Regions from separate parts of the Homo sapiens genome. Here all the other regions are linked to region 4. The links come from fine-mapping of genetic effects on gene expression. A gene starts in region 4. Each other region holds a variant in brackets. All regions are shown on one strand. Distances are from middle to middle.

Evidence for each region.
Region 1: its variant is fine-mapped to the expression of VAMP3 in pituitary (GTEx, PIP 0.99).
Region 2: its variant is fine-mapped to the expression of VAMP3 in whole blood (TOPMed, PIP 0.97).
Region 3: its variant is fine-mapped to the expression of VAMP3 in whole blood (INTERVAL, PIP above 0.99).

What each region holds. Positions count from the first base shown.
Region 1 is chr1:8,317,659-8,325,985 of GRCh38, reverse strand. It overlaps SLC45A1 (solute carrier family 45 member 1), which reads right to left and starts at 7,872. Exons shown (of 9, transcript NM_001080397.3): 1 at 7,800-7,872; 2 at 1,260-1,680; 3 at 596-688; 4 at 1-168. The coding sequence starts at 1,656. RefSeq lists a silencer at 7,763-8,042. The variant G/T (reference allele first, on the strand shown) is at 4,251.
Region 2 is chr1:7,666,888-7,675,214 of GRCh38, reverse strand. It overlaps CAMTA1 (calmodulin binding transcription activator 1), which reads right to left. Exons shown (of 23, transcript NM_015215.4): 10 at 4,178-4,304. Among named protein-coding and RNA genes, the nearest start is that of VAMP3, 100 kb to the left of the region's middle. RefSeq lists enhancers at 5,190-6,036, 7,205-7,394. The variant C/T (reference allele first, on the strand shown) is at 4,878.
Region 3 is chr1:7,827,473-7,835,799 of GRCh38, reverse strand. PER3 (period circadian regulator 3) reads right to left here. Exons shown (of 22, transcript NM_001377275.1): 18 at 7,985-8,327; 19 at 5,639-5,966; 20 at 1-38. Among named protein-coding and RNA genes, the nearest start is that of UTS2, 21 kb to the left of the region's middle. RefSeq lists an enhancer at 8,071-8,327. The variant A/T (reference allele first, on the strand shown) is at 3,751.
Region 4 is chr1:7,769,103-7,775,901 of GRCh38, reverse strand. VAMP3 (vesicle associated membrane protein 3) reads right to left here and starts at 4,606. Exons shown (of 5, transcript NM_004781.4): 1 at 4,517-4,606; 2 at 2,391-2,460. The coding sequence starts at 4,518. CAMTA1 (calmodulin binding transcription activator 1) reads right to left here. Exons shown (of 23, transcript NM_015215.4): 23 at 6,196-6,799. RefSeq lists silencers at 4,243-4,472, 4,437-4,679 and enhancers at 4,913-4,962, 4,706-5,402.

The DNA.
Region 1 (8,327 bases), 550 kb before region 4:
CCATCATGTAGGCGTGGCTGGGGTTGTCCGCCGAGTCGGCGCTAAAGTCCATCAGCACCACACCGCACACGGTCAGCAGCAGGCCCCACTTGTGGTTCCCGGTCACGTCAGCCAGGGCGATGCCAATGTCCCGGCCATTCAGCAAGAGCGAGAGGCCCAGCAGTGCCCCTGGACACAGAGAAACAAAGTCACCCCAAGAAAATGCAGACCAGCTCTGTCCCCGGCAGCTCACGACTTATGTCTAGAATCTTTAGGACTCAAGAATTTTTAAAACTTAAACCTCAAGCACAGCCCGGTGGAAAAGCCGCCTGCAAACTCACCATATATTTTGCACTTGGATGGGGGTTTTTATTTCATTAAGCAGAGAAGAAATGAGATGAACTTTATCAACTCAATTTTTAAAAATGATCAAAGCGATCTATTCTCACAGTTAACTGAGGCCAGGTTGCGGGGCACTCCCTGCCTCACACCAGTGCGGGCCCAGAGCTATCTGGGTAACTGCTTTGGTCAACATTTTTTAAAATTTTCCTAAAAGGAAGCAGTTGGGGCCTTTTTTTTTTCCTCTCCATTTTATTTCCATGCCAAAACAACAGACCTATAGCCAGGACAAGAATGAAAGGGCGTCTCCTTCCAAACCTTGAGGTACACCGGTCACTCCAAGCACCCAACAGAGGCTGCAGTAGGAATCCTGAAACAGAGCAGGCCAGCGGTCATTGCCAGGGTCCCCATGGCACATGGGGACATCGAATCAGCCTCCACATTCCTGAAGTGCCTGCTCTCAAACACCCCCAGTGCATCAAAAGAATAAGATGATGAAACAGTCAGTGACAAAACCCTGAACTCGGAAACCAAAGCTCAGCAGACTCTGGGGATTGCTCAGCATCTCCTTAAATCCTCCACTTTGGACCCTAAGGCCCTAAGCAGCCACGACTTTCCTTGGGAATCCAAGAAATTTCAGGACCTTCCAGGCTCACATGACACCAAGCGTTATGAGTTGGACCCTCCAACAAGGAGAGCCTGGCATCAGACGGTGTCAGCCCTCGGGGAGCTGCTAAATCCCTGTTCTATTGTCTGCTTTCGATAAGGAACTTAAAATCTGGGATATGACCGGTGGTACCTGTGTTCCCCACAGTCCCAGACTGATGAAGGGAACTTAACTCTTGATCCTCCCTTCTCCCCTCAGGACCCTCAGGCTACTGCGATGAGGCTTCTGGAGGCTTCCAGAGGCCCTCCACCATCGGGGAGGAGCCGGGGCTCACCGAGGATGGGGCTGATGAACCACACCAGGCTGTAGAGCTGGTCGGGCAGGCCCATCTGCAGGAGCACCGGGGTCACGTACGCCGTCTCCATGGCGTAGCTGAACTCGATGCCAAAGAGAATGCAGCCGTTGAAAAGCAGCTCCCGGAAGGACCTCTGGGGGTGCAGGTCCCCGAAGTCCACCAGCTCAAGCGGGCACGGGGTGTTGGGGGGCGGGGGTGGGGAGGGACGAATGCACTTCCTCCTCTTGGGGTGTCGTTTGAAGTTGTTGGCCCGGTGACTGAGGTGTCGTGTCACGGACCCCGAGTAGCCCGTGACCTGGGACCTCCAGAAGTCCTGTGGGGCCACGCTGGGGAAGAGGGCATCTCCCGGCGGGGTGCTGCTGGCTGCGGGGATCATCGTGGGGAGGGCTGGTGGGCGTCCCTGTGAGGAAAGCCCGTGGGGAGGCCACAGTTACTTTTGCCTGGGTAGTCCTCCCCCAACATTTGAGTTCACACTGCAGAATTTAGAGTCAAACACCATCCCCCGAAAGCAGAATGCACTGCTCATGGTTGATGCTCCGGGGCCTCACTTTCCCATCTGCAGCTCCTCTGCCCCAGGAGGCCAAAGCCCAGTGCCTTCCCTACTCAGAGAGAGGACCCCCGTCCTGCAGGTCCCCACCTCAAACTCAAAGGGACCATCCCCCAAACAGAGGCTCGGTCAGGACTGTCCTGAGGAAGTGAGAGCCTCTCAGCTCCTCTCCGGCCTCCAAGGACACCAGGCTATTTTAGGACCTGCGGCCCATTTCCAGGGCTAATTTTGCCCTTCCCTGAAGGTCCCAGGGGACCAGAGAGGAAGAGAGACTGGGCATGGTTAGGAACCACCCCCCCGGCACCCTGAGTGCTTCCTCGCGTTGCGGGGACAGCTCCTCTGTCACCAGATAGAGTCAGAGCCAGTCCTCTCCACTCCCTAACGCTTGTGTTCCCTCCTTCGCGGTAGGCCAGGGCACTCTCCCTAAAGGCAGCTGAATGGGCTTAACACAAACCCTTTTCCTTCAGCACCCATTGACAAGTGAGTTTTAGTCCAGTGGGGAGAACTGAGGCTTTGACAGTGTTCGAAAATGCTTTCTTTAATAAGCCGAACTCTGGAATCCCGTAGTCACAGACAACATGCGAATGCAGAGGGACAGAACCAGGGAGAGCTGAGAAACAGATCCCCACCCCCCAGCTTCAACTTACTTTTTTTTTTTTTTTTTTTTTGAGACAGAGTCTTGCTCTGTCGCCCAGGCTGGAGTGCAGTGGCTTGATCTTGGCTCATTGCAACCTCCACCTCCCAGGTTCAAGCCACGCTCCTGCCTCAGCCTCCCAAGTAGCTGGGATTACAGGCACCCCCCACCACGCCCAGCTAATTTTTGTATTTTTAGTAGAGACGGGGTTTCATCATGTTGGCCAGGATGGTCTCTATCTCCTGACCTCGTGATCTGCCCACCTCGGCCTCCCAAAGTGCTGGGATTACAGGCGTGAGCCACCGTGCCCAGCCTCAACTTACTTTTTAAACATTTTCACAATGCCCATGACCTAGGTAAGGAGAGAGCAAGTTCAAGGCCTTCCCAGATAGACATCCTTCCACTCCCCTCCCGCGCTGTCCTCTGCCCAGCTGGGGTTTGCAATCTGCACCACTTAGGCACCGGTTCCAAAGTGTCGAACTGTTTTTCACTGCTTTGAAATTAATCTGGATTATTAATATTAACAGAATGGATTCTAATATGTTAGCTTGTGTGTTTTAGCCGATGTCCACTTGTATAAGCACAAGGAGAGAAAAGCTGCTCAGATCAGAGGGAAAGAGACAGATACCAACATAACAGAGGGGGTGGGGGGTTCCAGGATTCTCTCAGACACAGCCCACCTGCTCCACAAAAAAGCAACAGACTAAATTCCCTTTGAAGTCCTTCCTGAGACGTAGGCCCCAAACTGGGACAACTTTCCCAACATTGATTTCTGATGATGGCGCTTGTCATTGACCAAGATAAATATCACGGGCTTTCTCTCAAAATTAGTTTTAAGCTTCAAAAGTAAGCCACTTTTTTCCTGACATTAACTTACCATACCACTTTCCATCACACTATCACTAGACAATAAATTATTTATGAATCACTCTGAAATTCCTCACTCCAGATTTGTATCCAAAACTCTTCCACCACCCCACCCACTCAGAGATTGTCTTTCTTCTCTTTGGAAGACACCAATGGTGAAAATGATTGGATCTAGAGACATCCCAGCAGGATAAAGAACACTGTGTTAATCCAATGACTCATTCATCCATCCATCTACCCACCCAACTATCCATGCATCCATCCACTCACCCACTCATCCATCAATCCACCCACCCACCCATCCATCCATCCATGCATCCATCCATCCATCCATCCATCCATCCATCCATCCATCCATCCATCCATCCATCCATCCATCCATCCATCCATCCATCCATCCATCTCATCCATCCATCCACCCACCCACCCATCCATCCATCCACCCATCCATCCACCCACTCATCCATCCATCCATCCACCCACCCATCCATCCATGTAACTATGGACCCACGCACCCACCCATCCATCCACCCACTCAGTCACCAATTCACCCACCCACCCATCCATCCATGTACCTATCAATCCACCCACCCACCCATCCATCCATCCACCCACCCACCCACTCACCCATCCATCCATCCATCCATCCATCCATCCATCCATCCATCCACCCACCCATCCACTCATCCACCCATCCACTTGCCCACCCATCCACGTATCCATCCACCCACCCACCCATCCATCCATCCATCCACCCACCCATCCATGCACCCATTCATCCACCAGCCACTCTTCCATCCACTCACCCACACATCCATTCATCCATCTTTCCACTCAGTCATCTACCCATCCATCCTTCCACACATCCTCTCTTCCATTCATCTATTCATCTGTCTATCCAAAAACTATCCACACATCCACC[G/T]ACCCGTTCTTCCACCCACTCCTCTATCCATCCTTCCACTCACCCATCTACCTATCCCCCCTTCCAAACATTTACTCATCCACCCACTCACCTACCCAGCCTCCAATTCATCTGAGTACTGAGTACCAAGACACTGAGATAAGAGAGATAAAAGACACAGTTCTTGTCCTTGAGTTAGGTAAAAAGGTGGAGGAAAGGGCCTTCCTGGGGGGTAGAATCATTGGGTAAAAGACAGATATGAGTAACAGTTGGGCACAGTGGGGGTGGGGTGAGAGATGAAGCCCTCAGGAAGGTCTTAGCTAATCATGGAGGGCCTTGAAGCCTTGCTAAGAGATGGGTTTTATTCCAAGGTGACAGGGAGTGATATAGCAGAGACAGAGTCTCCTGTCACTTCTATAAAAGACTTATCCTGTGGCTTTGGAAAATACCACGCTTTCCTGTAGGAAGAGAACAGATGAACCTAAGAACCATGTAGACAAGTAATACTTCATTTGAAATAGAATTCATTTATAAGGAGTAAATCAAGATTAACATGTTTAAGAAGCTAAGCTTATTTATGTTCCTCACTGGCCTAGCTCAAGCACTTCTGCATGGTAAAACCTGGTGATTGGCAGGTCTTCCTTTCAAAACCCCAAGCAGCAGTTAGCATCCCCTGGAGCTTCATTCATCAAAAGCACAGAAATAGAGCGCCAGTTCCAACACTGTGTAAGACCATCTCCTTCAGAGTCAGAGGCGAGACCCAGCACAGGTGAGGTGGACGGTTGGATCGGACTCCGCCCAAAGGTCACAGCCCCACGTATGCTCTCAGTGGCCATCTCCCTTTCTGTCCCTCTGCCCAGCCTCTCCCCACCTGCAGGCACACAGGCATATCTCCCACTCTTTCTAATCAGCATTTTAACCATAATGTGAACTTAAGTGCATTAGAAACCTTCCCTTTAAATTTGGAATGAAGAACTGTGGCCCAGTTTGGAAAAACTTCAGCTTTAAACAGCATATGGCAGGTGTGTGTGTGTGTGTGTGTGTGTGTGTGTGTGTGTGTGTGTAGAGAGAGAGAGAAACAGAGAGAGAGAGAGAGAGACAGACAGACAGACAGACAGACAGAGTCTCCCTCTATCTAGCCCAGGCTGGAGTGCAGTCATCATCGCTCAGTGCAGCCTCAACCTCCCTGGGCTCAGGTGATCCTCTCACCTCAGCCTCCCAAATAGCTGGAACTACAGGTGCACACCACCACACCAGGCTAATTCTTGTATTTTTTTGTAGAGATGGGGTTTCGCCATGTTGCCCAGGCTGGCCTCAAACTCCTGGGCTCAAGTGATCCACCTGCCTTGGCTTCCCAAAGTGTTGGAATTACAGGCATGAGCCACCATTCCCAGCCCCTGAAGTGTCTTTTTGAAAAGAGGAGCCTCTTTGACCTTATTTAAAGTGGACTATGTAGACGGCCCACTTCTCTACCTGCAAGAGGACAACTCTACTGCCACCTCCGCCACACCCCACTGCAGCCTGTCCTAGCAGAAGGGAGATCCTCACACACTCAATGAACTTCTCTCTAGCATCTGAACCAGAATTAAACCTAGCTTAATCCTGGCTCAGAAGAAGTCTTTACTAAGGATTCATCTTCAAATCTGGGGATCAGCATTACCATTTTTATTAAAACTACATTTAGTAAAAACTGTTCACAAATGTTTATCATAAGAAGAATTTTAGAAACTCATTTTTGAGACCGGGCACAGTGGCTGACGCCTGTAATGCCAGCACTTTGGGAGGCCGAGGTGGGTGGATCACCTGAGCTCAGGAGTTCGAGACCAGCCTGGCCAACATGGAGAAACCCCGTCTCTACTAAAAATACAAAAAATTAGCTGGGCATGGTGGCGAGTGCCTGTAATCCCAGCTACTCCGGAGGCTGAGGCAGGAGAATCGCTTGAACCCAGGAGGTGGAGGTTGTAGCGAGCTGAGATCGCACCACTGCACTCCAGCCTGGGCAACAGAGTGAGACTCTTGTCTCAAAAAACAACAACAACAACAACAAAAATCCATTTTTAAGGTTCCCATAAAAATGGGTGAAAGTGGAATTTAAGATCATAAAATCTAATTTTCATGCACAAATACAAACATTCGCCAGACCATCTTTACTGTACCATATGACCATTTACTCGGTCAAAAGGAAATCCACTCATCTCCCTGGATCCCCCGAAGGCTATGCAAGGGGTCCACTGTGCTTCCAGAGTACAGAGGATGCTTAAAGTAACAGATTCCTCAAACTGTGTTGTGGGAAGTTTAAGCGGCAAATGATTAATAAAAGTAATCAATGTCAATGTAGTTTGAATGCTTACAATGATCCTACTACGAGCGGAAACCATTTCCTCATTTCTTTCTTCTCGTTATGAAAATGAGCTCCCCCCACGGGGTTGCCTTGGGCCACCTCCCTTCCTAGGGCGTATTTGCTTATTTGTTTATTTGAGACGGAGTCTCACTCTATCGCCCAGACTAGAGTGCAGTGGCATGATCTGGGTTCACTGCAACCTCCGCCTCCTGGGTTCAAGCGATTCTCCTGCCTCAGCTTCCCAAGTAGCTGGGATTACAGGCATGTGCCACCACGCCCGGCTAATTTTGTATTTTTAGTAGAGATGGGGTTTCACCATGTTGGCCAGGCTGGTCTTGAACTCCTGACCTCAGGTGATCCACCCGACTCAGCCTCCCAAAGTGCTGGGATTACAGGCATGAGCCACCGCGCCCGACCCCTCATGCTTCTTTCTACCCATTCTCAAAATTCTTCAGTGAGGTCCTCCAGGACCAGGAAGGTGCTCTACGGACTTGGGAGGGTGCACTTAATAGGCTAGTTACTGAATCGTGGCCGTTTCCCACTTTGCATCTCCGGCAGCTTGACCCCTACTCCAGGGCCAACTTTTCCCAAAAGCCCAGGCCAGGTGCAGCCTGAACGTGGCTTTCCTCCGCCCCTGACTCTGCTTCCCTGTAAGAGCTGAAAAACATGCACGGCTGTCACTCTAGAAATAATTAGAGAAGTTGCTGATTGTCGAGGGCAGAAGGAGCTGAACGGCTTCCACCTCAGCGCGTTCCCCTTGGTGCTGACTCGCTCGGGAAAGGGGAGTCCTCGGTGCCCTCGCTAAGTAACCCTGGGATGCTGAGGGGCGTTGCCAGGCCCCTGGTCAACAAGAGGGCTCAGCCCCACGCAAGAGGTGAGCCGGGAGCGGATGACACCTGCCCAGGTGACTAGGGACCAGGCCTCCGGCTCAAGGAGCGCATCAGGAGCTGGGGCCAAGGCCGGGGTCTCCTCCCCTTGCCAGCAAGGATGAGAGCACCTGCCATCTGGCCGGCACCCTCCCCTGGGCCCGAGGCTCCTGCCCTCGGAGGGGCGAGACGGGGGAGCTCCGTGGACTCTGCAATTCATGAGACTTCCACGAGGAACAAAGGTCTCCGTGCCGGCCTCGGGTCCCGGTCTCGGCGCCCTGACTACCCCGGGGCCCAGGGCGCGGCGCCCCGGCAGGCACGGAGCCAGAGAGCGGGCGGAGGGCGCGGAGGAGACGGTGGTACCTGTGGGTGGAGACGGCAGGCATCCCTGTCCCCGCTGGGCTGCTGCCTGCCCGGCCGCGGTCCCGGCTGCTGCAGCATCACCCGGGGCGGGGCGCTGACGTCACGGCCGCAGCCTCCGCATCCGCGCGGGGCCCGGAGCCTTAAAGCGGCGCCGCGTCTGGGGCCCCGCGGGCGGGAGGGGAGCCCGGTGTCCTCCTGGGCCCTTCCCGCGGGAGGCCCGTCCCGGTGCTTCGCGCACGACGGCGCGGTCTGCAGGATCTGCCAGGATCCCGGAGGAAAACGTCCCCCCGGCCTCACAGTTCTCACCGTTTTCTTCTGATTTTAAAAGAAATAAATACATTTTCGTGTCTTCATGTATAAATAGATACCCATGTGTTCGCGGATACGTGAATGCCGCAGTGCGTGTGCCAAGCCTGTGCCCATGTGCGCAGTGGGGCAGCCGGGCCTGCTGGAGGCGTCGCGACTCTGGGCCCGGAGCTGTCCAAGGCACTGGGGATGCCGCAAGAACAAGGCAAAGTTCCCGCCCCT
Region 2 (8,327 bases), 100 kb after region 4:
CGTTGCCAAACCTCTTTCTGCCCCAGGGCCTTTGCACTTCCCCTACCCTCTACCTGGCCTGGATGCTTCTCCCACTTCCCATGACTGGCTCCATCCCATCATCCAGGTCCCAGTCTGCGAGAGGCCTCTGCTCATCCATGTTCCAGAAGGAACCTCCTTCTTCCCAGGTGACCTTATTACCATATTCTACTGCTGGGATACAGTTTTCACCAGTTATCTTGGTTATTTCTTTTTCTCCTTGTTTGTTTTCTGTCTCCCTGCAGTAGAACATTAGCTCATGAGAGCTGGGACTGGCTCTGTCTTAATCTTCATGCCTAGTGCCAAGGTCAGTGCCCAGGATGTTATGGCGGCTCAGTAACTATTTGTTGAATGAATTGTTTTGAAACCCAATTCTACACCTCATTTGTTGTTTTTGTTTGTTTGTTTGCTTTTTGTTTTTTTGAGACAGAGTCTTACTCTGTCTTCCAGGCTGGAGTGCAGTGGCGTGATCTTGGCTCACTGCAACCTCCACCTGCCAGGTTCAGGTGATTCTCCTGCCTCAGCCTCCCTACTAGCTTACAGGTGCCTGCCACCACGCCCAGCTAATTTTTGTATTTTTAGTAGAGACGGGGTTTCACCATGTCGGTCAGGCTGGTCTCGAACTCCTGACTTCAAGTGATCCGCCCGCCTCGGCCTCCCAACATGCTAGGATTACAGGCATGAGCCACTGTGCCTGGCTTTCATTTTGAATTTCATCTTTTGTGTTCTGGTGACCTCTTAGGAATCCAGAGTAGGGCTCTCTGGCCAGTAGAGTCTTCTTGGTGGATTCCCCTATCTTCTCCCAAGCCTGAGTCGCCTCTTTTCCCCAGCACCTCCTCTCACTCACTGCTGCTCACTGCCCTCAGCTCACTGCCCTAACTTGGTGGGCTCCCTCCTGCCCCTGAAGCACCCTGGAGTCTTGCAGAAGACACACTCAGTGCCTGCGTGTCTCCTGCCACCTGTGACGGTGTGGGAGCTGCCAGGGCAGGACCCTGCTCATCTGTTTTGCTTGGGCAGGTGTGTTGGGAGACGGGTGGGCATTGGCCAACTGTGTTGCCAGTGCCCCCTCCTCCCGTGTCGTTCCTGGCTTGTGCTCATAAGCCTCTGAGCCTCTCTTTTTGGTGAGGCCAGTTTGATTCTGACTTCCAAGTGTTCATCCTTCGAGCTCAGCCTCAGATTCCTCTGGGGAGACCCAAAGATGAGGTCCCCAAGCAGCCAGCGTCATCTCCGGAGCAGTGATTCATTTGCGCACTGCACTCCTCCCTGGACCGAGAGCCCCTTACGATCAGGGGCCCGGTGAGAAGCTGGGTCTTATTGTTTGCTCCATTCCAGGCCCCTACTCTGTGCAGAGCAAGCAGGGGCTACTCAAAAGTTATTTGGCAAATGAAGAAATGAATGAATGAATTAATACATCCAGTGCTGTTTTACAGAGCAATGTGTTCCAATTTGGGCCTCAAAGCAGAGATGTCCAAAGGAGGCCCCCTTTGTGGAGTTAGCTGAAGACAGAGTGCTGGCTCTAGCAGGGGAGTCCCAGCTCTCAGTGTGCCTTGAGCCTTGTGGCTCCTGGTCCCTTGGTCCGAGACACATTATGGCTCATATAATGAGCCTGAACAGCTAGGAGGGTGAGTGGCCTGGGCAGAGACTCTACCTGCCATCTCTGGGGACCCAGAAATGCCCCAGGACCAGGAGAACTGCCTGTTGAGACCCAAACTGCCCTGGTACCCTCTCCGAACTCCCCCTTGGGAAAGGAAGAGCGAAGGCCTCCTTAATGGGAACCCTTCAGGAATGGAGCACTGGGCCAGGTGCTTCACACACCTCCTCTCACTCACTGCTCTCGCCCTGCTGGCAGGCAGTTTTCAGAGCTGTAGAAACTGAGGCCCAGAGAGGTCAGGCACTGAGCTCCAGCAACAGGGATGGTTTCTGGCTGATCTGGGATGGACCCGAGTGTGGCTGACTCCAGCCCCGGGGCCACACAAAGCCCAGCCTTTCTTTTTCTGTAGAGGGGTCAGATAACTGAGAGCAGACCTAAGCAGCCCTGCCCTGGTCCTTAGCCAGGCGAGAACCAGGTACAGGAAGTGGCATCTATTTATAGGCCAGGCAAGTCGCATTCTGGCAGCAGATGATGGGTGCACTGTTTAATTCCACAGTGCCCTCCCCGCCACTCCCGCCGGGCCGGGGTCCCATCAGCTGCACACAGCCCTGAGCTGTGATAGGCAGACCCGGCCTGGCTGCCACCCCGGCTGGCTGTGCTCCAGGCCGAGCAGGGCAGCTAGGTGGGCCTTCTGGAGCCAGGCAGGTGGGGGCTGGGAGGGGAGGGCTGGGCCAGCAGGGGGTGGGGTGGGCACCTTGGGCTGCTGCACTGGCTCCTGGGAACTTTTTGGGGAAGATGGTGCTGGGTTCAAGCAGAGGCGGAGTGTGCAGCCAGCTGTGGAGCAGGGGTTTTCTGCTCTGGTGGCTGCAAGAAGAGCCTGAGAGAGATGGGGCACAGTGGCTCACCCCTGTAATCCCAGCACTTTGGGAGGCCAAGGTGGGCGGATCACTTGCGTCAGGAGTTCGAGACCAGCCTGGCCAACATGGTGAAACTCCATCTCTACTAAAAGTACAAAAATTAGCTGGGTGTGGTGGCACAAGCCTATAGTCCCAGGTACCAGGGAGGCTGAGGCAAGAGAATCACTTGAACCCAGGAAACAGAGGTTGCAGTGAGCCGAGATTGCATCACTGCACTCCAGCCTGGCAAAAGAGTGAGACTCCATCTCAAAACAAAAAAACCAACAAAAAGAAGAGCCTGAGAGAGAAGGAGAAAAGGAGAAATGGGTGGTGGGACTCAGCTGGCCCAGCCTGGGGGCATGGTTCAAGGGTGGGGTGGTGGTGGCAGACAGCTGGGGCAGCCAAGGCTCAGGCTGGACCACCTTGGGTGGAACCTAGAAACACCCTGGGGCCTGCCTAGCACTGGCCAGCTCTGTACTCCCACCCCGTACCTTTCCTCCTCACCCCCAGTCTTCTACACTGAGCATCTTCTCTCCTTTCTAGGCTCCCTGACGTTAGAGGACAGGGGTGGGTCTCCCTGCCGTTCCGCACCCCTGCATCCTTACCCCCCTCCTGTTTATGGTCAGGGCTCACTGGACAGGCCATCCTGAGGGCTGGTGGTGATGAGATGGGGCAGCCAAGGGAGTCCTGCCAGCAACAGCCCAGGAGCAGAAGACATGAGCTCTAGAAACAGGCTTCAGATGCCTGGAGACTCATTCATTCCGTCACAATCTCCATCCCCCTCTGTGACATGTCCGGCACTCTGCCAGCCCCGGGGATACTATGGTGATCAAGAAGATAGTCCCTGACCCCATGGGACAGGCGAGTGGGGAAGCAGTGATGGCCAGAGATCAATGACAAGTTGACCAGACAGGGACACCGTGCTAAGCAGATAATGCTGGAGCCTGGGGAAGGGCTTCAGAGGCACAGGGACAGCACAGAGGCTGTCCCAAGGGTTTCTTGGGGGATTTTTGAGCCCCTGAAATTGGAAGCAAATTATATGCACCTTTTCTGGGCACAGGGTAGATGGCTCTGTTTTACATTCTCAAAGGCATTTGTGCTGATTATTGTTAGATTGACCTCCCATCACCACCCCATCTCCCTCCGCCCCTGCCAGGCTTTCTCCAGCCTTCTGCCCCCTGCCCAGGGCCCTCGGGAGGATGGAGCCTGTGTGTGGGCTGCATTGCCTGGGCTCTCCTGGCTTCTGGTTGGCTTGGGCCATGGGAGGCACGGGCAGGTGCAGAGAGGCCGCCTTGCTGCAGAGGTGGTCTCTGGCCCCAGCTCTTACCAGCTCTAGTCACCCTTTGGGCTGAGGGTGGTGGCCGCTTCCCACTGTGGCCAGTCCTGGATACATCGCCTGGGCCTGGCTTATTCCTGCCCTAAATCGTGCTCTCATCACATTCGCTTCAAAATCCCAGTCAAGCGTGCCTGTGTCCCTGTCCTATATTAGGTCCCTGAGCCAAAGGAGGTGACGTTCTAATAGACTATCGGGGATCCGCTTCTTCACAGCCGAGGAAACTGAGGCCTAGAGTAAGGACATGACCTGCTCAAGGTCACCCCAAGGCCAACTCCGAGTCCAGTGCTCCTCAGGCCATCACACTCACCTTGGGGGCCTGGGGGGCGGCTTTCTCACCTGGGCAGTAGCAGCGCAGCACCCCAGGCTGAATCAGGGATGCAGGCACTGAGATCTGGTCAAACAGGCAGCTGTAGTTATTGCTGGCTTCTTGCCACGGGCCTGTGATGAGGACCTTCACTCCTCCCTGCAGAGAACAGAGAGGGGAACAGAGTTGGAGTGTGAGCCACTGTGGGAGGCAGCATGGGGAAGCCCCCCTGAGGCTTCACTGCTCAGATGGGGGTCTGTACCCCTCGCCCCATGCAGATTCCCAGGCCCTCACTCCAGGGATTGCAGTGAGCCCCGACTTCTGAGAACCACAGCTCCAGGACTACAGCAAGAGGAGAGCCCAAGGCGCTCCTTCCCCAGCCCCTCAGGAAGCCCCAGGACCGGCAGCTCCAACCCCTGACCTTCTCCCTTTTGTGTAACTCGCAGATCCAGGCAGGAGGGAGTGCAGAGTTTTGCAAACCCTTTCAGCCTACGATGCCCCTGAGAAATGGCCTGGAAGGAAGCCGAGGGCAGGGAGGGGACTTGCTCCGTCATTCACTTGTGGACAGACTGAGGGAACTCCAAGTTTTGAAAACAGGCCTGAGCATCTCCGTGTCAGCCCAGGGACCAGAAGTTCTTGTAGGGAGTTGAGGAGAGACCCAGGATCCCCAGGCTGTGGGGATGGCAAGGTGAGGGGCTGGAGCAGGACGGGCTGAAGAGCCCGATGAAGAAA[C/T]AGAGGAGCTAAAGGAGCTAAGTGAAGGAGACGCTCAGAGACTGCCCTGGGAGCTGAGTTTGGGGCTCAGAGCTTGGGGCTGGGAGTGGAACGGGGCTGAGCATCTGCCCCCTCCCCCAACCCTGTGCTATCAAAGGTCCTTGAGTCTGTGTCACTGCCTACACAGCTAGCCTGGGGTCCCACAAGCAAGCAGTGACCATGCAGCCTGGCTGGGAGCAGCCTCGAATGACCTTCCTCAGCTCCAGGGGGGAGGACCCCACCCTCAGGAACCTCCCAGGGCGCCCAGGGGCAGGAGAGCATCGGAAGGGCTGGGGTACTCCCTGACTCCCCGTTCCGACCAGCCTGGGGCTGCTGCAGAAAGTGGAGGAGGAGGGTGGCCTCATGTCCGGGGCCCGGGCAGTCCTGCTTCATGGCCATTGTCCTGCTTAGTGATGAGAGAGGGAGGTGCGAGGTGGACGGCACCTTGGAGGTCCCCTACTTACGGCTTAGCCGAGGAGAGGGGCTGGTCACTGAGTAGAGGGAGGCTCTCCCTGGGGATGAGGAAGGTAGGGGTGCCGGCCTCCCGGACTCTCCTGGCTAACCTTGGGTGGACCCACCCCAGAGGCGCCATCCACCCCACCCCCAAACCAGTAAACACCTTTCCCTGCAGTGGGGCGGAGAGCTGCTAGGTCAGGGCGGAGAGCACCACCTAGTGTCCAGGCTGGAGAAGGCCGCCAGGCAGGCTGGAGCCTGGGAGGTGGGGGTGAGGAGCTGCTGTGAGCCCACCTTCCCCACTGCTCCAGGCCAGAGAAGTGATTCCCTACCCCCCAACTCCGTGCCAACCAGATGCTCCCTACTGGTCAGTCACTCATTCTTGCTTGGCCTCTCCTGGGCCCTGGCCCACCCCTGCCCTGGAGGAAGCCCCGGCCTCTACAAGGAGCCTGCCCTAGGCGCCCCACAATGTTCCTGGAACCCAGGCCTGGCCCAGGGCATCTGCAGCAGGAGTGAGTGTTTCCAGGGATGAGGTGGAAGTAGCTCCTCCCATTGCCCAGCCAGGAAAAGAGACTTCTTCCACGGAAGGGGCTCTCCCAGGCTGGAAAGCATATTCCACCCCTGCTCTTGCATGAGCCTGGCTCTGGCCTGGGAGGTCACTTTACTGCTACGGCAGCAGAGAGAGCTCAGGACCGAGAAACAAAAGCAGGAGGCCTGCTCCTGCGCCTCAGTAGCTGTGTGTCCTCAGGCAAGTGGCCCAGCCTCTCTGGGTGGCATCTCCTTGCTAGGGGCCCTTCTGACCACAGCATCCCTTGTTCTGATGCCCAGGGATATTTGCAGCTCCGTGGAAGTGGCGGGGCATTGGGGGGAGTGGGTGCCTGGCTGAGAAGAGTGCCGGCGGACAGGTGGAGCCTGACTTTGGGATGTCTGGAAGCACCAGAAGGCCAGCTCAGGGCACCATCCCCCAGGATCCTGGGAAGTGGAAGAGCAGTGACTTCAAAAGGCCACAGACAGTTACCATGTGAGAAAAAGGGAAAAAATAATAACCGCAATCAACAGCTGCTAGCATGAGGCTGGGGCTGCTGCCGGGAACAAAGAACTGCAGAAATTACTGGAGAACATCAGGACCTTCTCCATGGAAACCGCCGCAGGACAGCTCAGCATCCATCCATTCAAGGGATGGTTCCCATGGCAACAGCCCGCCTGGCTGCGCTGAACTGGTGGTGACGCGCGTGCCTGAGGCTGTAATTGCAGGCTCTTCTGCTGCTGCAGCAGGAGTGTCAGTGGTGGGAGATGACGCAGGAGGGTTTTGGGGGTGGGGAGGGGGCACGAAATGCCATCTGAGGTCTCTGAGTCCTGAGATAAAGGGCCCATGTCTGATGCAGCCAGGGCAGATGCTGGGGCATAGGGGGACGCCTCTGGGGTGTGTGGTGGGTGTGTGTGTGTGTGTGTGTGTGTGTGTGTGTGTGTGTGTGTGTTGGTGACCAGCTGCAGCTGGAGGTGAAGGGGTGGACAGAGATAGGAGAAATGGGAGCAGCCTGTGGGAGGGAGGGCCACTCAGAGAAGAGACAGCAGGATGGCCCCGGCCATCGCATTCCTGCTAGGTAGATGCATTGAGGTTTAGAGCTGGGTGGGGGTGCTGAGTAACCGTTTAGCCAAACCCCATTTTGCAGACTGGGAAGTAGGGCCCAGGCCGACGAGCCTGCCTGTAGAGCCCTCCCTGAGCTTGGCAGAACCTGGCCAGATTGGACTCCTGATGCAGTCAGTGCACAGACAGGCTGGCAGGGAGGGGACAGGACGAGGGCCAGACAAAGGGAGAGAAGTGTCAAGAGAGAAGGTGCTCTCTCCTGTAGAACCCAGGATGGGGGCACCCCTGCTGTGGTGTGGAGACAGTGGCCTGGGTAGGAGAGGACAGCAAGGAGGAAGGGGCCCTTCACAACCTCTGAGGCCTCACTGTGTGGCCAGGTGGGGCCCCAAAGGGCCTAGCTGGGTGGCTTATGCGCATTTTCCAAATCAAGCTGAATTTCAGCAGCTTTTGGTTGTGGGTAACTGGAAGCATTGAGGGCTTCTGGAAAAGCAAGGCTGGCCGCTCCCTCTGCTGGGCTGCCAGGCTGCCAGGCTGCCATTGCGTTCCTGTTCCTGGGCCGCCCTCGTGTGGCGAGCTGCTGAACTGCAGGCCCAGAAAGGACAGAAGGAGTCAGGCCTGCTAATGTCCCACTCGCCAGGACACCCAGGAGGCTGGGGTGTGGGTCTGCACCCAGCCCAGGGCCTGTCTGACAGGCCAGGACCTCGGGAAAAGAGGGGACCCTCCTCCCACCTCCTGGCTTCTGCAAGACATTAAGGGCTCCAGGGCGCCTCTAAGTGTCCCGAGGACCAAATCTCCCAGGTCCTAGGACTGGGAGTGCCTCGAGGCCACCCCCTCTCAGCCATTTACACGTAAGGAAACTGAGCCCCAGAGAGTCAGGTCTCAAGGAGCCAGGACCAGAAGACAGCTCTGACCGTCCCCCCGCACCCTGATCCTGGCCTCCTCCCTGTCCCTTTGCATCGCTTTCTTAAGCCCAGGGTCAGGGGGCACGGGGAAGATGCCCAACTGGCCTTCATGGGGTGGGGTGGGGGGTGTGGTGGGCACTCCGAAGGTGCCATTGAGCTCAGAGTCACTGATAAGATTAGGAGGTCAGGGCCGGGTGTGGTGGCTCATGCCCGAAATCCCAGCACTTTGGGAGGCTGAGGTGGGCGGATCACTGGAGGCCAGGAGGTCAAGACCAGCCTGGGAAACATGGTGAAACCCCGTCTCTACTAAAAATACAAAAATTAGCTGGATGCAGCAGGGTGTGTCTGTAACCCCAGCTACTCGGCAGGCTGAGGCAGGAGAATCGCTTGAACCTGGGAGGCGGAGGTTTCAGTGAGCCGAGATGGCGCCATTGCACTCCAGCCTGGGCAAAAAGAGTGAAATTCCTTCTCAAAAACAAAACAAAACAA
Region 3 (8,327 bases), 59 kb before region 4:
AACACTACTAGTAAGGTATATACTGCTGTCGCTGCTTCCTGTCAAAAATCAACAACACATAATTAGAAAAGACCTGTCCGACTGATTTGCCAAACTGGCTCTCATTCTTCAGACTCTTGCCTCGGACAGTCCTCCTCCTCAGCCAGCCCAACCATCATTTCCGGGAAACTTCCTCCTCCCTGTGGACAGCCTCCTGGTTCTTTGGTCTTCCTGAGATCTCTTTTTCCATTCCTAATGAGCTATCACTCTCAAGGCTACACACATTGTCCTTTATCATCACCCATAACCGCTCCATCTCCAAAATCATCAACATCTCAGCTTCACTCTCTCATGGGCTTGTTCAATTATTTCAACTATAAATGTGTTAATAACGTCTTAGTCTTCCTGTAGTGGAGTCCTCAGTTCATCATTCAGTAACACACCTTGCAATACCTTAGACTTCTTTTTCCCTCTGACTTTTCATAACTGTCAAAATGCCAACTCCAATAAAGCCAATTATTGACTTTGTTCTTACCTAAACCCAAGTCGCCAAATACATACAGAAAGTCACATATAACAGGGTACAGTGTTTCTACAATAAACGCATCATCACCAACCTCAAATGCACCATCAAAATACCTGGGAATCCTGCTACAGTTCTCTGGTCATGCACTAACCTACCCCCAGCAATGACTATTTTCAACCTCTCTATTTCCTGCCTCAATCTCACCTATTTTTTAAGGAAAAAAGAAGCCATCAGAAAGCAAATTAATCACCTTTATGATACCAAACATACACAATTAATGATATATGTACCCCCTCCTCACCTTCCTCCTGCCACAACACAGAAACTGTTCATCCCAAGGACCATCCCTTTATGGCTGATATGAAGCCTTATGGATCATTCCTTTCCTATCTTGCATTTGACCCTTCTAGAACCTTCTCACTGACTTTGAAGGAATTAAAAACACAAAACAAAACTATTTGTTTAATTTTTTTTAAAAAACTAAGTATGTAAATAAAAAAGTAATAAAAAAATTTTCCTCATTAAAAAATATCTTTAGGTTGGGCGTGGTGGCTCACACCTGTAATCCTGGCACTTTGGGAGGCCAAGATGAGAGGACTGCTTGAGGCCAGGAGTTTGAAACCAGCCTGGGCAACACAGTGAGGTAGGTTCCATCTCCATAAAAATAAAAAATTAGCTGAGTGTGGTGGTACATGCCTGTAGTCCTAGCTACTCAGGAGGCTAAGGTTGGAGGATTGCTTGAGCCCAGGAGTTTGAGGCTACAGTGAGCTATGATTGCATCAGTGCACTCTAGCCTGGGTAACAGAGTGACACCTTGTGTCAAAACAACAACAACAACAACAAAACACTCACACAAAACAACTTTAAGAGGTTGTTACTGTTTAAAGCAAAAATAATAACAATGTTATTGTGGGTTTTTTTACACGTTAAAATGTATGACAAAAATAGCACAAAAGACAAAGGGGACATGGAAGTACTCCGTCTTAAGGTTCTAATATATAAAGTGATACAATAGGCATAATATTTGAAGGTAAACTGTGATAAGTAAAAGATGTGCATTGTACAACCTAGAGCAGGCTGGGCGTGGTGGCTCACACCTGTAATGCCAGCACTTTGGGAGGCCAAGGCGGGCGGATCGCCTGAGGTCAGGAGTTTGAGTTCAGTCTGGCTGACATGGTGAAACTCCGTCTATACTAAAAATACAAAAAATTAGGCGTGGTGGTGCACGCCTGTAGTACCAGCTACTTGGGAGGTAGAGGCAGGAGAATTGCTTGAACCTAGGAGGTGGAGGGTGCAGTGAGCCAAGATGGCACCACTGCACTCCAGCCTGGGTGACAGAGTGAGACTCAGTCTCAAAGAAAAAAATAAGATAAAATAAAAATAAATAAAAAGTTAATCCTAGAGCAAAAACAAAAAAAAAGTTATGCTTAGAAGCCAATACACAATTAACCCGAAAGGAGGAGGGTAGGAGGAAAAAAAGAAAGGGCAGATGAGACAAACAGAAAATTAGTAGCAAGATGAAAGATTTAACTTAAACCTAACCATATCAATATTCACATTAAATGTAAATAATCTAAGCAAGCATTGCAGTTAAAAGGCTGAGACTGTCACATGAATAAAAAGCAATACCCAACTATATGGTGGTTACGAGAAACTTACTTTAAATATAAAGACACAGATAAGTTGAAAGTAAAAAGATGAAAAAAATTTACCATGTAAACACTAACCAAATAAAGCTGGACTGGATACACTGATATCAGACAAAGCAGACTTCAAAGCAAGACATATTTCAGGATAAAGAGAGCAATTCATCAAGAGGATATAATAATCTCAAGTGTATATGCACCTAATAAAAGAGCTTCAAAATACATGAAGCAAAAACTCACTGCACTATAAGAAAAAATAGAGAAATTCACATTTATAGCTGGACATATAAACCATATCATAATAACTTATAAAACAGATAGAAAATCAGTTAGAAAAGGTTGGATCAACATTATCAACCAACTTGATCTAATTTACATTTACAGAACACATGACTCAACAACAGCAGAAAGCATATTCTTTTCAAATGCACATGAAACATTTATCATGATGGACCAAATTCCAGATCATTACACAATGTCTTGGTAAATTTAAAAAATACAAAAGAATGTTCTCTGACTGCATTTAAATTAGAAATAAAATAAAAATATCTAAAAAAAATCTCCAAATATTAGGAAATTAAGCCTTTCTAAAACAACCAAAAGATCAAAGAAGAAAATACAAGTGAAATTAGAAATATTTTAGACTGGCCAGGTACACTGGCATATGCCTGCAGTTCCAGCTACTCAGGAAGCTGAGGCCAGAGGATTGTTGAACCCAGAAGTTTGAGGGTGCAGTGAGCTGGGATCATGCCACTGCACTCCAGCCTGGGCAACAGAGTGAGACCTTGGTTCCAAAAAAAAAAAAAAAAAATTTGAGGGATGCAATGGTTAGAGCATTCAATAGCATTAAATGTTTATATTGGGGGGGAAAAATCTCAATTCAAAGATCTAACAAGTAAGCTTCTACCTTAAGAAATAAGAAAAAAAAAATAAAATCCAAAGTAAAGAGAAAAGAAGTAATAAAAATTAGAGCATAGGCTGGACACGGTGGATGATGCTTGTAATCCCAGCAATTTGGAAGGCCAAGGCGGGCGAATCATGAGATCAGGAGTTCAAGACCAGCCTGGCCAACATGGTGAAACCCCGTCTCTACTAAAAATACAAAAAATCAACTGGGTGTGGTGGCGGGCACCCGTAATCCCAGCTACTCGGGAGGCTAAGGCAGGAGAATCGCTTGATCCTGGGAGGTGGAGGTTGCAGTAAGCCAATATCGTGCCACTGCACTCCAGCCCAGGTGACAGTGCCAGACTCTGTCCCAGGGAAAAAAAAAAAAAAAAAAAAAGAGCATAAATCAATAAAATAAAAAACCAAAAAACAATAGGAAAAAAAACCCCAATGAGATCCAAAGTTCTTTGAAAAGTTATTAAAATTGATAAACATACAGTCAGATTGATCAGGAAAAATATTAATACCAGCAATAAGAGGGGTACATTACTATAAAACCTACAGACATTAAAAGGAAAAGGGAATATTAAAAACTTTATGCCAATATATTCAACAAATTAGATAAAATAGATACATTTCTTGAAAGATACAAATTACCAAAGATCACTAAGAAACTGATAACCTGATTAGACCCATATATATTAAAATATTTAA[A/T]TTTGTTGTTAAAATCCTCCTCACCAAGAAAACTCCAGGCCCAGAAAGATTCACTGGTAAAGTCTACCAAACTTACAAAGAAAAAATAATATCAGTTCAACACAAACTCTTCCAGAAAACAGAATAGCAAAGAATAGTTCCTAGCTCATTTTTTGAGGCCAGAATTACTCTGATACCAAAACCAGACAAAGACATTACAAGTAAAGAAAGTAAATGGACCAATATTCTGCACAGAGATGCAATAATGCGTAACAAAATATTAGGAAGATAATCCAACAACATATAAAAAAGGATAAAAGAGCATGACCAAATGCAAGGTTAATTTATTATCAGAAAACTGATGTAATTCACCATATTAATAGAATAAGGGAGGAAAACCACATGATTATCTCAACAGACGCAGAAAGGGCAACTCAGTGGAGCAGCAATAGAAGTGAACTTCCTCAATCTGATAAGGGCATTCAAGGAAAACTTATACTTAACATCGTACTTAATGGTGAAACACTGACTGCTTTCCCCTTAAGACTGTGAACCAGGCAAGTGTCTATTTTCCTATTTCTATTAAACACTTCACTGTGGGTCCTAGCCAGTTCAATGAGGCAAGACAAATAAATAAAGACATACAGACGGAAAAAAAGAAGTAAAATTATATTTGCAGATAATAAAGACTATGTAGAAAAGTCCTGCAGAATCTAAAAAGAGCTACTAAAACTAATCAATGAGTTTAGCAAGACTGCAAAATACAAGTTAAAAATACACAATTTGATTAAATTTCTATATGCTAACAACAAACAATTGCAAATTGAAAATTTAAAATGCCATTTTCAGTAGCATCAACAATTATAAAATCCTTAGAGATAAATTTAGCAAAATATATGTAAGGGTTGTAGGCTGAAAACTATAAAACCCTGCTGAGAAGAATTAAAGACCTACATAGAAAAATCGTACTTGTGGATCAAAACACTCAATATCATCAGGAAGATAATTATTCACGTATTGATCATCTATAGATTCAACACAATTTCATTCCAAACACCACGAGACTTTTTTGTAGAAACTGAGAAATGGAGTCTATAATTTATATGGACAAAGGACCTAGAATATTCAAAATCATTTTGAAAAGAAGAATTAAGTTGAAGGACTTACTTCACCACGCTTCAAGACTTACTTGAAAGTTACATTACTTAAGAGTGTGGTATTGGCCTAAAGCTAGCCATACAGATCAGTGGAACAGAAAAGAGAGTCCAGAAATACACCCACACGTGTATGGTCAAGTTATTTTCAACAAAGGCATCACGGCAATTTAACGGGGGAAAGATTAATCCTTTGAACAAACGGCAGGAACAGTTAGATATCCCAATGTAAAGAAAGTATATTGACCCTTCCTCATACCATACACAAAACTCAAAATGGATCACAGATCTAAGCTATAAATGCTATTGAGCGTGCATCTCAACAGCATCATGCTAACTGAAAGAATCCGAATACGAAAGACAGCATACTGTCTGATTCTATACATAAATCATAGGAAAAGCAAAACTAAAGTGACAGAAAGCAAACCAGTGGCTGCCAGGAGACCAAGGGTCAGGGCAGAGATGGACTGGTGAGGGTCACAGAACTGTTTGGGGTGACAGAAATGTTCTATATGGTGATTGTGGTAGCGCTTACACTAAGGTACACATCTGTCAGAATTCTTGTTTGTACCCCTCAAACTGGTGAATTTTATTGTGTATAAATATACCCCAATATACCTGACAAAAAGGAAAAAGGGAAAAAGAAAAAAAAACCTTGTACTTCCACATCAGTGCCTGGGGCACACAGTGAGAGCTCAGCACATAGTGAATGTCTGGCATTGGAGTTTGAAACATTAGTTGTCCTGATCCACTACCTGATGCTGCTGAACCAGTTCTGGATGGGGATTCGCTGGGAGGTGACCCCGTGGACAGAACAGTGGCAGTAGGATGGGATGGAGTCCTGCTGGGAGGCAATCCCATGGACAGTGTGCTGGCAGTAGGATGGGATGGATTCTTCATGGGAGGCGATCCTGTGGACAGAGCGCTGGCAGTAGGATGGGATGGATTCTTCATGGGAGGCGATCCTGTGGACAGAGCGCTGGCAGTAGGATGGGATGGATTCTCCCTGGGAGGTGACCCCGTGGACAGTGCACCGGTAGTAGCAGGACTGCTCTCACTGCCATTGTTGCCTGTAACACACTGCTAGAAAGTAAGGGCACATGAAAAGACACTTTAATCTTCTTATCACAAAATACAGTAGTCCTCCTTTATTCATGGTTTTGCTTTCTGTAGTTTCAGTTACCTGTGGTCAACCAAGGTCCAAAAATAGTAAATGGAAAATTCCAGAAATAAACAGTTCATAAGTTTAAAATTGTCAGCCATTCTGGTAGTGTCATAAAATTTTGAGCTGTCTTATTGCTTCCAGCCTGTGATAGGAATCATCCCTTTATTTCACACCTCCACACTCAGTAGCCGTCTTGGTTATCAGATCTACTGTGGTATCATAGTGCTTGTGTTCAAGTAACATTTATTTTACTTAATAATGGCCCCAAAGTGCAAGAGGAGTGATGCCAGCAATTGGGATATGCCAAAGAGAAGTCATAAAGTGCTGCATTTAAGTGAAAAGGTGGAAGTTCTCAAGAAGGAAAGGAAAAACCCATATGCTGAGAGTGCTACAATTTTAGGCAAAAACGAATCTTCTATCCATGAAATTGTGATGAGTATATTGTTATCATTGTTCTATGTTATTAGTTACTGCTGTTAATCTCTTACTGTTCTTAATTTATCAATTAAACTTTACCATAGATATGTATAGTATGTTTAGGAAAAAACATACTGTATATACGGTTCAGAACTACCCACGGTTTCCGGCATCCACCATGGGTTTGAAACATATCCCCTGGGTAAGGGAGACTACTGTAACTGGCAGATCTTCAACTTCGTGTGTTAAACAGAATAAAATTTACATATATAACTAAGAAGTAAAAACGTTCCAGCCTATCTCTAAGAAATAAGTTCCTTTGTAAGTAATATTAAGGCACTACTACTTTCTCAGTACCTGCTACATGCCAGGCACCCCACAAGTAGTTTTTTTTTGTCACTCAGCAAACACATATCGAACATTTATATGTTCTAGGCACTGTGTCAAACACTAGGAATATAATAATGAACAAAACAAAGTTCCAGCTCTCCAGGAGCACCTACTGCATAGGGAGAAGTACTATATAAATACATCATTTAGCCCTCAGAGTAAGCTATGAGGGATTCATCTTTCCATTTTCCTAATAAGGAAACACAGGCAAAGAAAGGTTAAATAACTTGTCTAAGTGAATCTTCCTAACTAGTGACCGAGCTGGGATTTGAATCCGTGTCTTAATCCATAGCCCAGGCTTTACTCACTGTAATATACTGCCTTCCCTTAGATTTTCAGCAAGCACACCAGGCTTTCAAAAGTGAGCATATTTTCTTGATTTGTATCACTAGATTTTGAATATCTGTTAAAGAAGGGTATTGTACCTTAAAGAGAAGGTCAAAGAAAAATCTGTGTAAATATTCACACTTGCCTTGGATTCTATACCTAAATATAGGAACGTCAGATTCCAAAGTTTAACCTGCTAAATAAACCTGAGAATGGCTTTTTAGGTAAAGGGATGAAAAGTTAAAGGAAGCAGACCAAAAAAGCTTTTGGTTTTGAAAAAAATGACATGTTTAAGTGTGAAACTATAAACTGCCTACTCTACTGATAACAAATAAAATAGCTCCTACCTCTTCATACACACCTGTTGTCCTGTGACTGTGCATGAAGAAGTACAATCGTTAAATTGTCAATATGGCTTATTCCTATCTCACCTGACCATAACCCCGGTTGTAAGTAAACAAATACGTGTTATAGGCAATGAACACTTAAGCGTAATACCTGTAACGAATTTTAAAGAGTAGAGGGAATCCAGTTCACATGAAAACTTAAAAGATAGCACTTTGGAAAAAACCTCACAAAGTATATAAGAAACTAGAACATAGATGATTCTTTCATGTCTACTTTCCAAACAGAGCCAGGCAGATGTGTTTCATGTTTACACAGAATTAGGCTAACAGGCTCACTCACAGTAGCCACGCGGATTACCTACTGAGAATGTCAGCACTGAGTCCCAACGCAACCACCTTAACTTTAGTAAGATATTCACTTTCTCACTTGAGTGTTGAAAATGAGCATCACTTACATACTCAGTTTGTGGGCACGTGTTCCTTCTCATCTGATCTGGAGATTCAGAGGGTCTGGGCATCTCTTCCTGAAGTAAGTTTAACTGCAAGGGTGAGCTGCTTCTCGAAGTAATGAACGGGTGCCCCTCGCTTTGTGCCTCCCACTTTTCCTCCTCTCTCCTTTGGCTGGTGACTGAAGGGGGTGGGTCCAGAGTTGGACTCATTGCTGACGACATTGAGGGTGATATCGCAGAAGAGGCTGTCGCCCCCAGGAATGGACATGGCAAAAACGATGGCGACAACAGAGGACAGACAGGGGGGTCAGGCAGGAAAACGGTCATAAAAGTATCCAAGTAAGGAAAA
Region 4 (6,799 bases):
AGCCAACATGCAAAAGAATGAAGTTGAATCCCCACCTCACCCTATATACAAAAAGTAACTCAAAATGGATCAATAATCTAAGTGTAAGAGCTAAAGCCATAAAACTCTTAGAAGAAAACATAAGGGTAAATCTTCATTACTTTGGATTTGACTGTGGATTCTTATATACCAAAATCAAGAACAACAAAAGGAAAAACAGATACATTGGACTTCATAAAAATTAAAAACTTTTGTGCATCAAAGAACATTATCAGGCCAGGTGCGGTGGCTCATGCCTATATTCCCAGCACTTTGGGAGGCCCAGGCAGGTGGATCACCTGAGATCAGGAGTTTGAGACCAGCCTGACCAAAATGGTGAACCACTGTCTCTACTAAAAATACAAAAAATTAGCCGGGCAAGGTGGCGGGCGCCTGTAATCCCAGCTACTCTGGGGGCTGAGGCAGGAGAATCACTTGAACCTGGGGCTTGGAGGCTGCAGTGAGCTGAGATTGCACCACTGCACTCCAGCCTCGGCAACAGAGCAAAACTCCGTCTCAAAAAAAATAAATAAAAATAAAAAAAATAAAAAAAATGTAAAAGACAAGCCACAGAATGGGAGAAAGTATTTGCAAATCACATGTCTGATAAAGAAAGATTTAATATCCAGAATACATAAAAAACTCTCACAACTCAAACAACCCAATTAAAAAATGGGCAAAGCCTGAACAGACATTTCTTCAAAGACATACAAATGGCCAATAAGCACATGAAAAGATGCTTAACATCACTAATCATTAGAGAAACGCAAATGAAAACCCAAAGAGCTCAGTAGGATGGTTATAATCAAAATGGAAAACAAGTGTTGGCAAGGATGTGGAGAAACAGGAACTCTTGGACATTGCTGGTGGGAAAATAAAATGGTGCAGCTATTGTGGAAAACAATTTGGCAGTTCCTCGTAAAATTAAACATACAGCTACTATGACCTAGCAATGCTACTCCTAGGTATACATTCAAGAGAAATGAAAGCCTATGTCTAAACAAAATCTTTCCTGTGAATATTTATAACAGCATTATTCATAATTGCTGAAAGGTGGAAACAACTCGAAGACTCATTAACAAATGGATGGCTCAACAAATTGTGTATACACATACAATGGAATATTACTCAACCGTAAAAAGGAACACGGTACAACACGTTACAACTTGAATGAATGCAAAAAACTTTGTGCTAAGTGAAAGAAGGCAGATGCAAAAGGCCACACATTGTATGATTCCTTTTATATGACATACCCAGAACAGGCAAATCCACAGAAAGAGAGAGCTGATTAGAGGTAACCAGAGAATGGGAGGAAGGGGAAATAGTGAATGATTACTAAATGGGCATGAGGTGTTCTGGGGTGATGAAAAAGTTCTGAAAATGGAAAGAGGTAATGGTTGCAAAATATTATCAATATACTAAATAACACTCAATTATATACAGTTTAAAATGTTTAGTTGTATGTTATGGTAATTTTGCCTCAATAAAAAAACAACTCTCCTTAAAATTCCTTTGGCTAAAAAAAAAAATCCAATTTGATTTTGTAAGTAAACAGAATTTCCAGGCAGGACAGAATTACAATGGGTTTCTTACTGTGAAAATCTAAAATTGTATAAGTTCATGAACAAAACCATCAGATCAAAACATTACTATATTATTTAACAACAGTATCTGACATAACTTTAACTGTTTTTTCAGGGCAGCTAAATGCAGAAAGACCGAAATATATTTGTCGGACAGTGACGGCTTTTAGGAATGTGGAAACACTAGTCTGAATTTCTCAATCTTCTGCTGTGGTTCTCCACATACGGCGCAGAACAAAAGATGGAGGTCCTCTAGCTCAAGAATTCTACAAACAGAGATTTGCTGAGCTAATGGAGTTTGACAGTATCTACTTTGTGTGTGTCAATGGACAACCATTAGAGATGAATTCTACAGAGAGGCTTGCTCAGGCTGGACAATTAGTAAGAAGACAAAGCATTTTGATAAAAAAATCTGATCAGAAGAACTGGTCTTGGCTTGAGCAATCTAAAGACCTAATCCTTAACATTGTATTATCCGATTTTATAAAGTGCTTCTTGGGGAATGCACTCAGGGAGTGATGTTCATGTTTTAGGCATATGATTTTTTATTTCTCCTGAGCTAAATGTTATGAGCAGGTTTCTATCACAGGAAAACAAGCGTGAAACCTAGAAAGTCTGACTTTTGCTTAGATTAGATCTTCCAGCACAGCAGGGAGCAAAGTTTCGTTACAATTATGATACAGTCAGAATTTGCTTTACATTCACACTTTGATGATACTTTTTCTAAACAGATTTCCAGAGTACTCATATTTGTTTAAAATTCATATTTCCAACATTTCAGAGCAATACCTCATCTACTTGATTTTGTGTCTGCTGAAGTCTTCGATTACTGCCAGTGGCAGCAGTTGGACCTGTAGACCTGGAACATGTAAAGGCATGAGCATGAGTACATTACGATTCCAAATACATTTTCTTAAGTATAAAGATGTTACTCCGGGACTCTCACTGTTAACAATCTCTTACATTAGAACTAAAACAGAAAAAGAAATTCTTCCTGAAGCAATGAACGAAAGTTTTAATTGCATTTCTTCTAATTTCTCTATAATTTCCAAGACTGTCCCACCTACTAAAGGGACAAATGTTAAGCTTTAATAGGACCTACTTTGTATCCCTGAAGTATCTGATCCCACGATAGGTAAGCTCTACTGTCCTTTTTTGAAACTTGTTCTAAGGCACACATCTGCTTGAATGTACTCAGTACTTTCCTGATCTTTTCATTGTGGAAGGAACTGTTTTCATAGTTACAAACAGTTACAGAATGCCCTTTTTCCAATATGGAAAAATAGATTAATTTACAGAAACAGAGTCAGGAACACTGGGATGCAGGGAGTGGGTGGTGTGAGTGGAAAGGTGTGTTGAAGAAATGCCTCCTCTTTTAGGAAGGTACTCTTTCTTTTTCCCCCTCTTTTGAGAGACGGAGTTTCGCTCCTGTTGCCCGGGCTGGAGTGCAATGGCGCGATCTCGGCTCACTGTAACCTCCGCTTCCTGGGTCCAAGCAATTCTCTTGCCTCAGTCTCCCAAGCAGCTGGGATTACAGGCATGTGCCACCACGCCCGGCTAATTTTGTATTTTTTAGTAGAGACGGGGTTTCACCATGTTGGTCAAGCTGGTCTCGAACTCCTGACCTCAAGTGATCCGTCCACCTCGGCCTCCCAAAGTGCTGGGATTACAGGCATGAGCCACCGCGCCCGGCCCAGGAAGGTACTCATCTTTTAAAATCTTCATCAAAGGCTTTATTTCTCCCCATGCAGATCTTTCTTAACCACTCTGACTCTGAAGTCATTATTGGCTCCATTACTTGGAAAGTATCACTTTGGTTTTTCAGGTATAAAGTCCCGCCTCCTCGAATAGATCACAGGTTCCTGGGTCTTCTTACTCTCTTCTCTGTATCCTAGATAGCACCTAGCATGTGCCTTGGTATACAACAGTCTGATGGGCTGTTTGAACAGTCACTTTACATCTGTCATGTGTCAATGACCAGGGCTACAACAGATCTCATCACCGTCCTCACGGAGTTTAGTATCTGGTAGATAAGTAAGGACCATGCCGTGGCGCTAGACTCTTTCCATGCTTTTCCTCCTTTAACCCTCATAACTCTCTGAGGGGAATATTACTCCTATTTTACAAATGAGTAAAGTGAGGTTTAGAGAGTCAACACAGCTGGCTGCAGGACAGCTTGTTTTTAGATCAGGTCCTGTGTACCTTGGCTCTAGATCTTAACCACTGTGATCTATTGGCACAGCAGCCTCAGCAGGAACATTCGAGGGGGGTCCCCAGCTCCTGGAAGAAACCCGGGGCTTCCTCCGACGGTGAGCAATGAGCAGAATGGAGGTGGAAGAGGGAGTCCTTGTGATTCTTAACCATTAGCATTCTCTGAGTCTTACCACTGGAAGCAGGGGTTTGCAACGTGCTTTCGCTTAAGAGAGCGAAGGCCCACGGTTAAGTGATCTTTCCAGTGCAGATGCCCCTAGCTAGGCAAGGAGCTCTTCGGCCCACAGGGGCTCAGGACAGGGCCGAGGTCCTTTCTTTCGCAACTTCTGGGGCCCAGCGCAGCACCGGGCCGAGAGCGGGCGCTCCCGAACCAGGGCTGTCGTCCCCATTCCTCTCAGGGACGTCGGGGACTAGAAAGGGAAGGGGCGAGGAGCGGGCTGCGGGCGGGCAGCTCACTTCCTCCGGGAAGCGTCTCGCCGCCCCGCCCTTGCCCCTTCCGCGTCCGCCCGATGGCCGCGGGACCCGCCCGGCCCGTCTGCAGCCCGCGACCCAAGGGCCACCGCCCACCCCCAGGCCTCGGGATCCCCGCGCAGCCCCGGCCTGCGTCCGAGTGGCGGCCGGCGGCAACTGGGCAGTATGGCGGTCCCAGCGCGAGCTGCCGCCTGCGGGGCCCGAAGCCGCCCGCGTCGCGTAGCGTCACTCACATTTTGGCAGCTGCGGCGGCGGCAGCGGCGACGAGAGAGGGTCAGCAGAGAAGCGAAGTTGGGACCGGAGGCCAGGGAGATGGGTGGGACGGCGCGGCGCGGGGCAAAGACGTCACTAGGCGGAGCCGGGGGAGTGGGCGGGGCGAAGAGGGGGCGCGCCGGAAGTGGGCGGGGGCGTCGTGGGTGGGTGCGTCCAGGGCGGGGTCAGAGCGAGACGTCCCCTCCCCGGACGAGGTCACTTGGGAACTTGAGGGCCACAGGGGTCCCAGGGCGGTCCGGGCTCTGAAACGCAGAACGCAGGTCAATACAGCTCCCTGTCCGCACCGCCGTCCGCGCTGGCGCTTGGGGACGTGGTCTGTAAACGTGGTGCATTAGCCACTGGCGAGGGACTGCGTGGATAAGTGAGGGTGGGGGCAATTCATGTTATTCTGGGCTCGGGACCATTTCTAACAGTATTAGAGACAGATGACTGGCTTCTGCTGAGTGTTCCAGAGTAACCTAGTGATCCTGAGGGCACCATGTTTCTCTAAAGTAGTTGAAATAGGAAGTCCATTTCGGGTATTTGTCACATGGTGTTGGGTGAGGTTCCCGCTCATGTTTTCATCGGTGACACAAATATTTGTCACTGCAGATCATATTATAATCTGCTTACGAGAGCCTTGGCATCAAGGCTGTAGTTCCTTTATTTCTGTATTTTCAGGCCCTAGCACAGAATAGGTCCTCAGGTTTTGGTCGAAGGGAGGGAAGCACAAATCTGAACGCAGTGAGTTACCTTGTATATATTTGTTACTGAAATATTCCTACCAACATAGTTACCTACACCAAAAAATAAAACACTAATAGGTCATTGGTGGGTCTCTTAGATGAGAAGTGAAAAATACAGTACTTAAATACTATGCTGTTTTTTCCAACTCTAAATAGAATACTTTGAAAAGGGAAACGTTAGTATATATCGAATAAACGAGTGTCACAAAGGCGGTGGGATTTGAGCTGGGTACTAGTGGAAAAGAACTTTCCAAGTAAGGGTTGGGCAAACACCATGAACAAAGACAGCAGTGAAAATGGACGCAGTGTGCACAGACCACCTAGAGGGTGCAGGTTGGGTACAAGTGAAAAGAAGACTGAATAAAGAGGATAAACAAACAAGAAAAATGTCATTTAATTGTAGTGGGCCCTGGAAACCATTGACTTACGGACGTGGGAGATCCATGATGCAAAATTTCTCTGGCAGTAGTGGCCAGATGGATTAGATGGAAGAGGGAGCACTAGGGAGATAAGGAGAGGCTCTGCAGTGAACGGGAAGGGAGCGGCGATGACACAATACTCAGAAAGGACGACGTTCGTAATCTGCTGGAAAATGCCTTTTAGAAGACTTTAGAGGATTGTAACTGAAAAGGTGAATTAAATTAATGTCTTTATCTTTCAAATAATTGCACTGCCTTACACAAATGATTGACATGTTGAGAGGTGCCTGGAAAGATAGGGGAAAAGCTCTCTGAATGGTGGCTGGAAGACATTTTTTCTTTCATGGACCTAGCTGAAACAATGTAACATTCAATGTCAAAACATTACATCTGGATCAGAAGGAAATCCTTGACATTATTACATATGTTTTGAAACATGTGCCCATCACCTTAGATTTCACTACCCGGTCATATTAAAGCAAAACACACACGTAGTATGGGGAAATTTTCTTCATTTTTAATTTACAGCAGAAAGAATATAAAGCATTCAGAAAACATTTTCCATATTTTAAGGGCAATTCAAAACATTTTGCATGGTTTCCAGCAGCTGAGTTCTTCAACAGATCCATTGATTCAATGATGCTTTACATGCACAATTACAAAAATAAAACTTACAAAAAAAGAAGACATCTAGACTAGTTTTACATGCAAGTCTCAGGGACCCCCCATTGGGCGCCAACTACTGTGTGGAACTGCCATAAGCGACCGTGCAGCCAGAGAGGGGTTCGTATTATTGTCTTTATTTCGTTCACACAGTACAGCTGATTTCGAATGGGTAACAATAGCAATTAAATCTTCAGGAGATAGAATAAGATTAGCTATTAATTTTATAATGAAATCCTACTCCTGGCACTTGGGAATTCAGATTATCCAAGAAAGCTGCGCTTACCTATCATCTTATATTCGAAATTAAGATTCATAACCAAGAAAAAGCGGTCAGAAATGCTTCGTTTCAGTGGAAGTGCATTTTTGCCTCGCCTAGGATTCACAGTTGTACTGGTAGGTTACACTGGTAGGCTTTAAACCTACTTCCTATCCC